Homo sapiens: one gene and its partners. The protein of the gene in region 1 interacts with the protein of each later gene in a pairwise test. Each region holds a gene or a part of one and is shown in the gene's direction. Other genes may lie near its edges.

Region 1 (3,650 bases):
GCACGGTGGCTCACGCCTGTAATCACACCACTATGGGAGGCCGAGGCAGGTGGATCACCTGAGGTTAGGAGTTCGAGACCAGGCTGACCAACATGGTGAAACCCCGTCTCTACTGACAATACAAAAATTGACTAGGTGTGGTGGCACATGCCTGTAGTCCCAGCTACTTGGGAGGCTGAGGCAGAAGAATCACTTGAACCCAGGAGGCAGAGGTTGCAGTGAGCTAAGATCATGCCACTGCACTCCAGCCTGGGCAACAGAGTGAGACTCTGTCTCAAAAAAAAAAAAAAAAAAACTGTGTAATGAATGAAGATATACAGTCCTCTTTATCTGAAGTTCATGATTTCTTTTTTTTTTTTTTTTTTTTTTTTTGAGATGGAGTTTCGCTTTTGTTGCCCAGGCTGGAATGCAGTGGCGCAATCTCGGCTCACTGCAACCTCTGCTTCCCAGGTTCAAGAGATTCTCCTGCCTCAGCCTCCTGAGTAGTTGAGATTACAGGTACCCGCCACCACGCCCGCCTAATTTTTGTGTTTTCAGTAGAGACAGGTTTCACCGTGTTGGCCAGGCTGGTCTCAAACTCCTGACCTCAGGTGATCCACCCGCCTCAGCCTCCCAAAGTGTTGGGATTACAGGTGTGAGCCACCGCGCCCAGCCTGAGCTCATGATTTCTAAAAGTAGATTTTTTTTCTCCAGGAAAAGTGAGCTATATCTTACTTTCTAATACCAAGTCAGAATTTTTTTTTTTTTTTTTGAGATGGAGTCTTGCTCTTGTCACCCAGACTGGAGTGCAATGGCACAACCTTGGCTCACTGCAACCTCCGCCTCCCGGGTTCAAGCGATTCTCCTGCCTCAGCCTCCCAAGTAGCTGGGAATACAGGCATGCACCACCACGTCCAGCTAATTTTTGTATTTTTAGTAGAGACGGGGTTTTGCCACGTTGGCCAGCCGGGTCTTGACCTACTGACCTCGTGATCTTTCTGCCTCAGCCTCCTAAAGTGATGGATTACAGGTGTGAGCCACCGCACCCAGCCCCGAATTTTTTTTACATAAAATGTTTGCCAGTCATATACTAATGTGGGCACATACTAATTATTCCACAAAAACTATCATTACATCATTTGCATGAGGCTGTAGTTATATTTATCATATAGCACTGACAGTCATCCACTAAAGATGTAGACCATTGTTCTTAACTTAATGCTATCATTAGAGATATGAAAATCCATCTGGAGAAAAATTTAGAAGAAGAGCGCCAGATATTACTGCAGCAACAAAAAATATGTCGAAATCGAGCACGTAAATATTTTGTGGAGTCAAATCGGAGAAAAAAGTAAGTAATTGCACTTTATTCAGAAGTATAGAAATTCAAAGTCAATATAAAGTAATAGTTTCTCTACTTTGTAGCACTTTATGAAACTAAGTCATGGCAGTGTTATCTGTGAAACATTGATCAAGATTTGTGTGGCTTTGTAAATTTTATTATTGTTTTCCTTCCCAAAGCACAAGGGTGGTGGTGTATTATCTAGGTCTCTGACAGTAGCAGTCTTTTTTTGTCATAGAACAGCTTATTGCATTGTCATATACACTTCTTAAAATGACTATGAAATGTATTATCTTCTTTTTTTGTATCATTTCATGATTTCATGATGATTTTAAAATTACCAATTAATATTTAGTCTTTTGGTATATAGTTTGAGTTTAATTTGTTATTCACTTCTATATAATTTTTCTATATCTGCCACTTTTCATTCGTTCAATCTGAAAAATTGGAAAAAATATGAATAATGGTATAAAAATTGGAAAAATATGAATAATGGTAGCAATATGAATAACAGTAGAAGTGGTAGAAATGTTTTATAAGTGAATGCTAGAAAAAGGAGCTTTCTAGGGTAAACTAGAAACTATAGTAAAGAAAAAGTACAAATTGTTCAATCACTGCTTAACATTTTTCAGGATGTTTTTTAAATATTAGGCTTTTTTTGAGACAGAGCAGTTATGCCATTTTTTAATTGTTGTTTTTGCTACCTTGTCCATATTTCTACAATATATGAATAGCAGAAAATCCCTAGACTTTATTAACTACATCACTGGGCATATGTTAACAAATCCCATTTGGGGAATAAAAAATTGTTTACCTGTAATTTTTGCCTGGCATTATGTTTCTCTTCAGATTAACTTTTTTATTGTCTGATGTAGTTGAAATTATTTACTGAAATTTAGAATTTTATTTTGTATGCATAGGTTTCTGCTTTTCTCCTACCTTTGGGCTCCTGGCATCTATAAACGGCGTGTGACAGGTGTTCAGTAAAGATGAATAATCATATGTTGAAAGAGTAATGGACTTTGGAGTCAGAGATCTAGGAAATACTAGCTCTATGAATTAAAGGATGTCTGTTTAATGTCTTTAAGCCTCAGTTTTCTCATTTATGATTGGAATTAATTACATCTATTTCAAGGGATTTTGGTGTAGAGCAGAAAGGGTAGAAATAAAGTGGAATATTTGAGAATACATGTAAAAATATCAGTGTCTGACACATAGGACTTCTTATTTTTTATTATTAATGTTTATCAGTTGTTTATTTTACAATAATCAACTTTAATAGCAAGCCTTTATGGAATTTTATTAATAAATTTTCTATTTGTATTCTCTCATCAAATGTAAGAATTCTTATGTAGAAAATAACAGAAAAGAAATCTTGGTTTAAAATTCTAAGAGGCAGGACATTTTCCAATACAATATTATTGTGTTTTATTTTCCGTTACCCTAAAGTGCAATGTAAAGATACATAAACATTTCTTTTAAAACACTAATCATTTGTCTCTGTATTTCACCTTTTATAAGGGGGCTGAATTATTTGTGCACATCCGAATTTCAGAAGCTGTCTATGATTATGGTCTTCTTAACCATGCCATTGTCTATCAATTTATACTTTACATCATTTAAGTTTATGCTGTCCACTTACATTGTGGTCACAGAGGATTTTTTTGTTTTGTTGTTGTTTTGGGGCTGTGTGTGTGTGTGTGTGTGGTTTTTTGTTTTGTTTTGTTTTTTTGAGATGGAGTCTCACTCTGTCACTCAGGCTGGAGTACAGGGGCACAATCTCAGCTCACTGCAACCTCCGCCTCCCAGATTCAAACGATTCCCCTGCCTCAACCCCCCGAATAGCTGGGATTACAGGCACGCACCCCCGTGCCCGGCTAATTTTTTTGTGTTTTTCATAGAGACAAGGTTTCGCCATGTTGGCCAGGCTGGTCTTGAACTCCTGACCTCAAGTGATCCTCCCATCTCAGCCTCCCAAAGTGCTGGGATTATAGGTGGTTTTGGGTTTTTTTTTTAAATAGTATTTTCTTCAGGTAGAGACAGTCTCCTGCCATTTGTCAGTTATACATTGACATTGTCAGTGTTATGTGTCCAGCAGAAGTCAAAGGAAAATGTTCCTAGCATCAAGTTCTCTTTATTTTCATTAGTTGCTTTAAATCACACACATTTTTATTTTCTTATTATTTATTGCATTTCTATTAGCCAATATTTTTCTTGCATTGTATGCTTTTATCACATCCTCAAGTTTTCCATTCTCTCAGTCAGTATCTATACAATGGAGTCCCCTTTGTTTCCCTCCAAGTCCCCTTTGTTTCCGGCTCCAGTAGAT
Region 2 (3,650 bases), on another chromosome or scaffold:
GTTGCAGTGAGCTGAGATTGCGCCACTGCACTCCAGCCTGGGTGACAAAGCGAGACTCCGTCTCAAAAAAAATAAAATAAAATAAAATAGTAGATTAATTATATATATTATTTTTCTTTTTCTTTTTCTTTTTTTGACACAGGGTCTCACTCTGTCACCCAGGGTGGAGTGCGGTGGCATGATCTTGGCTTACTCCACCTCCTAGGCTCAAGCAATCCTCCTGCCTCAGGCCCCTGAGTAGCTGGGACCACAGGCGTGCACCACCACACCTGGCTAATTTTTAAAATTTTTTTGTAGAGATAGGGTTTTGCCATGTTGCCCAGGCTGATCTGAAACTCCTGAGTTCAAGCGATCCTCCTGCCTCAGCCTCCCAATGTGCTGGGATTGCAGGAGCGAGCACTGCTCCCAGCCAATGAATGATTTTTTTTTTTTAAAGGGTGAGGCCACAAGACAGGGCGGGGGCGGCATGGGAACTCCTAGCCCTGACTCCCGGCCGCGGCTGCTCCCCTCCCAGGTACTACGACGTCCCCATCGCCACCCTGGACTTCTCCTCGCTGTACCCGTCCATCATGATGGCCCACAACCTGTGTTACACCACGCTCCTTCGGCCCGGGACTGCACAGAAACTGGGGTATAGTGCCCAATTCAGCATGTGTCCCCCGAGGCCCATCTGGGCCTTCCCTTGGGGGGCTCAGTCTGGTGGGGGGCATAGGCACAGGCCCAGAGATAGTAGGGAGTGGAGGGGTGCTTGAGGGGCCTGCGTGTGCTCATGGCCAAGGCCAGGACCGTAGGGCAGAGGTGGGCTGGAGCAGGAGGGTGGCCGGCAGTCACCCCAACATCTTCCAACCCAGCCTGACTGAGGATCAGTTCATCAGGACCCCCACCGGGGACGAGTTTGTGAAGACCTCAGTGCGGAAGGGGCTGCTGCCCCAGATCCTGGAGAACCTGCTCAGTGCCCGGAAGAGGTGAGCCCTGGAGATCGCCTGCTTGGAGCTCAGACCTGTTGGGGCCTCTGGGCAATCCCTGTCCCTCACTGGGACACCCCAGGGCTGCCCAGCCACCCTGCCCTCAGCTGTGCGTGAATTAGCACAAGGCATCCCCTCCTGGCAGCTTCCTTTTGCCCCCTTGGCCAGAAGCTTCTGTGCAGTGCACAGTACGCCCAACCGTACATGGCACTCACTTCCAGAAAGGAGCCCTGACCAATGCCCAGGTGCCGCCTGAGTGTGCTTTCCCCGTGTTCCCTCGCAGGGCCAAGGCCGAGCTGGCCAAGGAGACAGACCCCCTCCGGCGCCAGGTCCTGGATGGACGGCAGCTGGCGCTGAAGGTGAGCGCCAACTCCGTATACGGCTTCACTGGCGCCCAGGTGGGCAAGTTGCCGTGCCTGGAGATCTCACAGGTGGGCACTCGGGCCCCTGGAAGGCAACTGGGGGCAGGTGGGCCCCCTGTGTAGGAGACCAGGGCTCCATGTGGGGGACCTGTATCCAGAGGACTGGGCACCCCAACTCACTGGCCTTCTAGAGAGAGGATGCCAATGTGGCTTGAGCAATTGGTCCATTCCTTCACTCAGCAAATGCCTACTGAGCACACACTGTGGTCAGGGCTCACTCTGTGCCCTGGGGATACAGAGGGGAACAAAATGGATGAGAGCTCCTGTCCCTGTCATCTTGCAGCCCAGTGGGGACACTGACAGGTCTGTGTAAACGTGTTTAGGACACAAGTGGCGCTACGAGCTTTGCAGCCGGATAAAGCAGGAGGTGCGGACTGTCGGGGAGTGATGGGGCTGGGCGGGACTCACCCCTCTCAATAGGCGACGCTCACACAGAGGCCAAGGGACGTGGGGAGGGAAGCCATTCACCGTCCCCACGGCAGCGTCCCGGTCTGCCTACCCACGGCAGCTCTGCTGCTTGAACAGAAAAACAGATTCTTTGAAACCACAGAGGGCCTGAGTTTCCGAGATTGCCAAGCTGGGGTCAGTGCCCCAGCTCCTGGCATATGAGGGCCTCGGAAGGGTCTTCCTGTCCAGCCTTCTCCCCTGGGACTTGAGTCTTGGCCCATTCCAGGCCAGTAGTTGTGCTGCTCTGCTTGGTTACCTCTAGCCACGGGGAGCTCCCTCTCTGGCTGGGCACTGCGCCACTTTTCACAGGGCTCTGGGTGGAAGGCTTGGATGAATTCTCAGTGGGTGGGGCCTTTGCACACACCCACCCACCCGCAGTTCTGGGGGTCCCAAAGACCACTTAGGTTCAGTGATTCACTAGAAGTACTCAGAGAGCAGAAAAGCTGGTTCTCATGGTTATGATTTAATACAGCAAAAGGACACAGATTAAACTCAGCAAAAGAAAGAGGTGCACAGGGCAGGGTATAGGAGGGACCAGGCGTGTCTTCCAGTTGTGCTCTCCCAGTAGAGTTGCCAGGCTGGCCCTCCTTCCTCCCAGTTTTGATGCGTGCCTGCACACATGCAGCATTGCCAACCAGAGGCTCTCACCCAAGCTTTGGGGTCCAGGGTTTTTCTTGGGTGTCAGTCCTATAGGCATGGAGCACCCTGTGACTGGCCTTAGTGACTCCATCATCCCCAGGCCCCTCAGCAACCCCCAGAGGTCAAACTGATACTGCATGGCCCAGGGCCCTACCATAAACCATGTTAGTGTCAACTACCTGGTGTGGTTCAAAGTCCCAGGTACACAAACACCTTTTTTTTTTTTTTTTTTGAGACAGAGTCTCACTCTCTCACCCAGGCTGGAGCGCAGTGGCACAATCGTGGCTCACTGCAGCCTCAACCTCCGGGACTCAGGTGAGCCTCCCACGTTAGCCTCCCAAGTGGCTGGGACTGCGGGCACGTGCCACCTATTTTTGTTATTTTTTGTAGAGATAGGGTCTCGCCATGTTGCCCAGGCTGGAACAGAGACACTGTTATCAGGCGGGATATTCTAGGGGCTTAGACTACCAGGAGCCAGGCAAGAGCCAGACCTTTCTTTGCACAAAGTGAATCGCTCACTGCATGCTCCCAACTCCCCTCTGCCTTTCACAGTCCCCGGCTGCCTCCCCAGCCTCCTTGGTGGAAAGGGGTGGCTGTGTGGACATCAGGCTCTAGCCCTGAAGCAGAGGCCAGGCCAAGAGAGCACAGCTTGGCCCTCCCCTGGGGCTGCCTCTTACCAATCCTGTGTCTCTGTCTTTTCTCTCTCAGCCGCTTCCCTCTGTCACTGTTCTGTTTCTGTCTCTTGACCTCTTTCCTTATTTCTGTCTCTCAAGCTTATGGGAGCAAGAGGTGGAATAATAAAAATGCAATGAATTGGCTGGGCGCGGTGGCTCACGCCTGTAACCCCAGCACTTTAGGAGGCCGAGGCGGGCGGATCACGAGGTCAGGAGTTCAAGACCAGCCTGGCCAACATGGTGAAACCCTGTCTCTATTAAAAATACAAAACATTAGCCAGGAGTGGTGGCAGGTGCCTCTAATCCCAGCTACTCGGGAGGCTGAGGCAGGAGAATCGCTTGAACCCAGGAGGCAGAGGTTGCAGTGAGCCGAGATTGCGCCAGTGCGCTCCAGCCTGGGCAACAGAGCAAAACTCCGTCTCAAAAAAAAAAAAAAGTAATGAATTACAGTGTTCACGCCTGTAATCCCAACACTTTGTGACACTGAGGAGGGAGGATCACTT
Region 3 (3,677 bases), on another chromosome or scaffold:
ATAAGAGTACAGGGGTTTTGGTCCCTGTGTTGGGTTTTCCAAGCAACATTTCTTTAGGAATGGGCTGGTTCCTTCAGGAGACACTCATAATGTACCTAGAAAAGATAACTAGAAAAGTTAATTCCAAATCAGCCTTTAATATAAAAGATAAACAATTGATGCCTCCTTTGATAAGAGTTAATAGCGATAAATAAAGTAAGCTGGTTTATGAGATCATAGGATGCCCACAGAATGAGTAGGCACTTGCCCAGATTATCTCCTTATACTGATTCCTACCAAACGTTCTTCATTCTTTTTTTTTTTTTTTAAAAGAACTTTGCCCATTTTCCCAGAGGAGATCCTGCCTCTGTCTTGTTATTTCATTACTTCCTTCTCTGTTCTAATATTGACTTTACTTTTTGGAATGTCTCACCTATACTCACCAACAGGTGCTCTAGGAACTGGCAACCTGTTAATCAGGCTCTAAATCCATGTTAAATGAAACTGGTATCTTTTGTGACTTATCTTTCCTCGCCTAGTCCCTTGAGCCACTCCCAGCTCACTCGCCCCCAAACCTGTCTCTCATCCTTAATTCCTGAATTCTTAGTCTTGGACTTCTGTTATAGTTCACATTCACAGTTGTGGGCAATTTGATTAAGAAGCAGTTCTGAAGTTGACTGCCAAAGTATCCTCCAATTCTTAAAAATTAGTTATTCTGAAAACACTATCTATCATGAACACTTTGGACCTTTGGAAAGAACTTTCTTTCTTTCTTTCTCTTTTTTTTCTTCTTTCCCTCCCTCCCTTCTTCCTTTCCCATTTTCTTTTGCACTGGGCAGTGGCCCTAGGGAGAACTTATCTTCAAAGGCAGATTGGTGGTTGGGGGTGGGATAAGAAGCAGGAGTCCCACAGGCTGACTAGCCTTTTTGCAATTGGGCCACTGTCCTGCACACATTTTTCTCTTTGTCATACCATGCTGTATTATGGGGATATGGCAACCTGACTACATTCACAACTTTTCTGGTCTTATGGTTCCTTAACTTTGCCTAGGTTTTTCTTCCTGTCTCCAGTGACAGAGAGAAATCACCCCTGGGGTTCCCAAAGGTGCATCCCCGTCATCATCTTCACTCACTGCATCTTGAAGCATATGGATGAAACCCAGCAGGCTTATCGCATAGCTTGTGGTCTGCCCTGGGGAGCCAAGGACCAAGAGCCAGAGAGATGAGAATCAAGATAAAAATAGGTGAACTACCACCTACCAAGTAGATGACTACATAGGAATGGATGTGTGGGCAAGTGGAGCCGTCTGTGTGTGTGTGTGTGTGTGTGTGTGTGTGTGTGTGTGTGTGTATTGAAGACAAGGGCAGGGGTTCCAGACCTCCCTGCATTTGAGCCCCATGCCCTCTCTTAGCATACACACAGCCTCCCAGGTACAAACAGTGCCCTGTTTGGAAAGTAAACATGCCATAGCAATCCTGGCACCTCTGTGAAGTGACTTAGATGCCCACATGCACCACCTACAATGCTACCTGAGTGATGAATGTCTCTGGGATGTGAGTGTCAGCTGAGCACGTCTGTTGGGAAATGGGCCCCTCCCAAGAGCCTGAACCTGAATACTTCTTATAAAAAGGTTCTCTGGCTGGACGCTGCTCAATCCACTGCCTAGCAGGTGGCCCATTCCAGTTGGAGAACGTAGTGAGTCTTTCAGTGGAGCCAGGGTCTGGTAAGTCTCCTAGCAGGGTCTGGGGGAGAGGGTGGGATGAGTTGAGGGCACAGGGGAGGAGCAAACAGAACACAGGCAGCAGATAGATGTGGAAGGGGTGTCCCGCAAGGCACCTACGCTTCTAGTGAGCCAACCTCTTAAGGTACTAATGAGGACATAAAGGCAACATAGGAGGTGGTTTTTGCAAGGGTACACAGCAAGTCCGCAGAAGAGCTGTGACTAGAACCCAGGTCTTTCAGCTCCCTGGATGGGGTTATTTATATTGGCACAACTCTCCTTTCCCACATGGTTGTGGGGCATGAGAGGCGTAGGCAAGAAAGAATGATCAGGACATGCTTCTGGCCTGTGGATTATTTAGACCCAGCAGGTGGGACCGCCTGTTGGACTTGGGTGTTTTCTAACTGATGGGGGTGTAGTAACTAGGAAGATACAGTCGAAGGTCGGTAGGAAAGTAAAATGAGGGACAAGAAAAAAGCCAAGTGGAGATTTTGGACTGGATCATACAGATAAGTTGCCGCAGTGTGCTGTTTATTTTCCACTGTGGAGAACTTGAGCAGTCTTCTTCTAGTCAGAGAAAATGGAAATGCATTGATTCATTGCATGGATTGTGTCCTGCTCTGAGCATGTTTAACTCACTGGAAACACCTGCTTGGATTTGCTTCTTTGCGTCCGCTCTTTCTGGGTGCTTTTCCCTCCTTGTCCCAGGCCAGGCTGACTTGTACACTAAGCCGAATCTCAAAAGCCCAGACAGAGTTCCATTGGTGGAAAGAAAAAGCCGGCTCGCCTTTGAAAGGCTGCCTTTCTTCCAGGTTTGTCGTGAGGAGCTCCGCGATGTCCTCTCAACAGAGCGCCGTTTCCGCCAAAGGCTTTTCCAAGGGGTCGTCCCAGGGCCCCGCTCCGTGTCCCGCCCCGGCGCCCACCCCGGCGCCCGCCTCCTCCTCCTCCTGCTGCGGCTCCGGCAGGGGCTGCTGCGGCGACTCAGGCTGCTGCGGCTCCAGCTCCACCAGTTGCTGCTGCTTCCCAAGGAGACGCCGCCGACAGCGGAGTAGTGGTTGCTGCTGCTGCGGGGGCGGCAGCCAGAGGTCCCAGCGCTCCAACAACCGGAGCTCAGGATGCTGCTCCGGCTGCTGAGAGGCCCGCAACCCCCAGCGCTGCGCTAGAGAAACCCGCCCAGCCCAGAGCGGGCCCGCCCCGCTGCGGCTCCCACGCGGGGCTGGGCCTCGGAGTTTGCCCCGTAAAGCGAATTGCACTTTGATGTTCAGAAACCCACTTTGTTCTCAGCCACGCAAAACTCCCTGACCCCGATGTGATTTTTCTCCCCGGGGATTCGAGAGCCATGCGTGGGACACTGGACCCTACTGTCTACACGGGCTTGCACACAGCAGGTGCTCAGCAAATGTCTATTGATTTGATTGTCTTTTGAAGATGTCATAATAAAGCTTCTACCTCCTGAGAACACCTTTTATTTGTTCTTCATTCGTTTCTCCACCCAGGTAGAAAGGCTTGAAATGTTTGTGAAAGGCAGAATACTATAATTCATGCCTGAACAAGAAGGTGGCTTTCTGATAGTTAATTATGATAGCAGCGATCACATATCGACTGTTTCGAGTATTTTAAGGATTTTATGCGACAAAGTCCTTGAATATTCTCAGGACTTTATGTGGCACAATCTGATTCTCATAATGACTTGCGTAGGAGAGTGCAATTATACCCATTTTACAGAAGAGAAACTGAGGTTAAGTAATTTGTTCAAAGTCACCCAGCTGGCGCATGATAAAGAAGACAGGACATCTGATTCAAGGGCTTCATTGCTCTGCTGAGTTCTCACCTGGGCTTCCCAAGCCTTACCACTGAGGTGCTCCTCCCGACCACCAGGTCCAGGCAGCTGTGTGGTAAAAGTTTGTTTTGGCAACTCTTTGGGGCTTTGGAATCAAGCCAGCTGTCTTCTTTTTTTTTTTTTTTAGTTTTATGTCTT

Evidence for each region.
Region 2: the proteins of CEP126 (region 1) and POLD1 interact in a two-hybrid assay, tested with the Homo sapiens proteins (one large-scale study listed by BioGRID and IntAct).
Region 3: the proteins of CEP126 (region 1) and CRCT1 interact in a two-hybrid assay, tested with the Homo sapiens proteins (one large-scale study listed by BioGRID and IntAct).

The regions. Positions count from the first base shown.
Region 1 is NC_000011.10:101,921,431-101,925,080, forward strand, and holds part of CEP126 (centrosomal protein of 126 kDa), read left to right. Parts: intron 1-1,210; coding exon 1,211-1,330; intron 1,331-3,650. UniProt on the Homo sapiens protein: Participates in cytokinesis. Necessary for microtubules and mitotic spindle organization. Involved in primary cilium formation.
Region 2 is NC_000019.10:50,408,271-50,411,920, forward strand, and holds part of POLD1 (DNA polymerase delta catalytic subunit), read left to right. Parts: intron 1-436; coding exon of another isoform or gene 437-514; coding exon 515-631; intron 632-851; coding exon 852-965; intron 966-1,248; coding exon 1,249-1,396; intron 1,397-1,670; exon of another isoform or gene 1,671-1,754; intron 1,755-3,650. UniProt on the Homo sapiens protein: As the catalytic component of the trimeric (Pol-delta3 complex) and tetrameric DNA polymerase delta complexes (Pol-delta4 complex), plays a crucial role in high fidelity genome replication, including in lagging strand synthesis, and repair.
Region 3 is NC_000001.11:152,512,851-152,516,527, forward strand, and holds CRCT1 (cysteine-rich C-terminal protein 1), read left to right. Parts: upstream 1-1,631; 5' UTR 1,632-1,702; intron 1,703-2,407; exon of another isoform or gene 2,408-2,511; 5' UTR 2,512-2,533; coding exon 2,534-2,833; 3' UTR 2,834-3,158; downstream 3,159-3,677.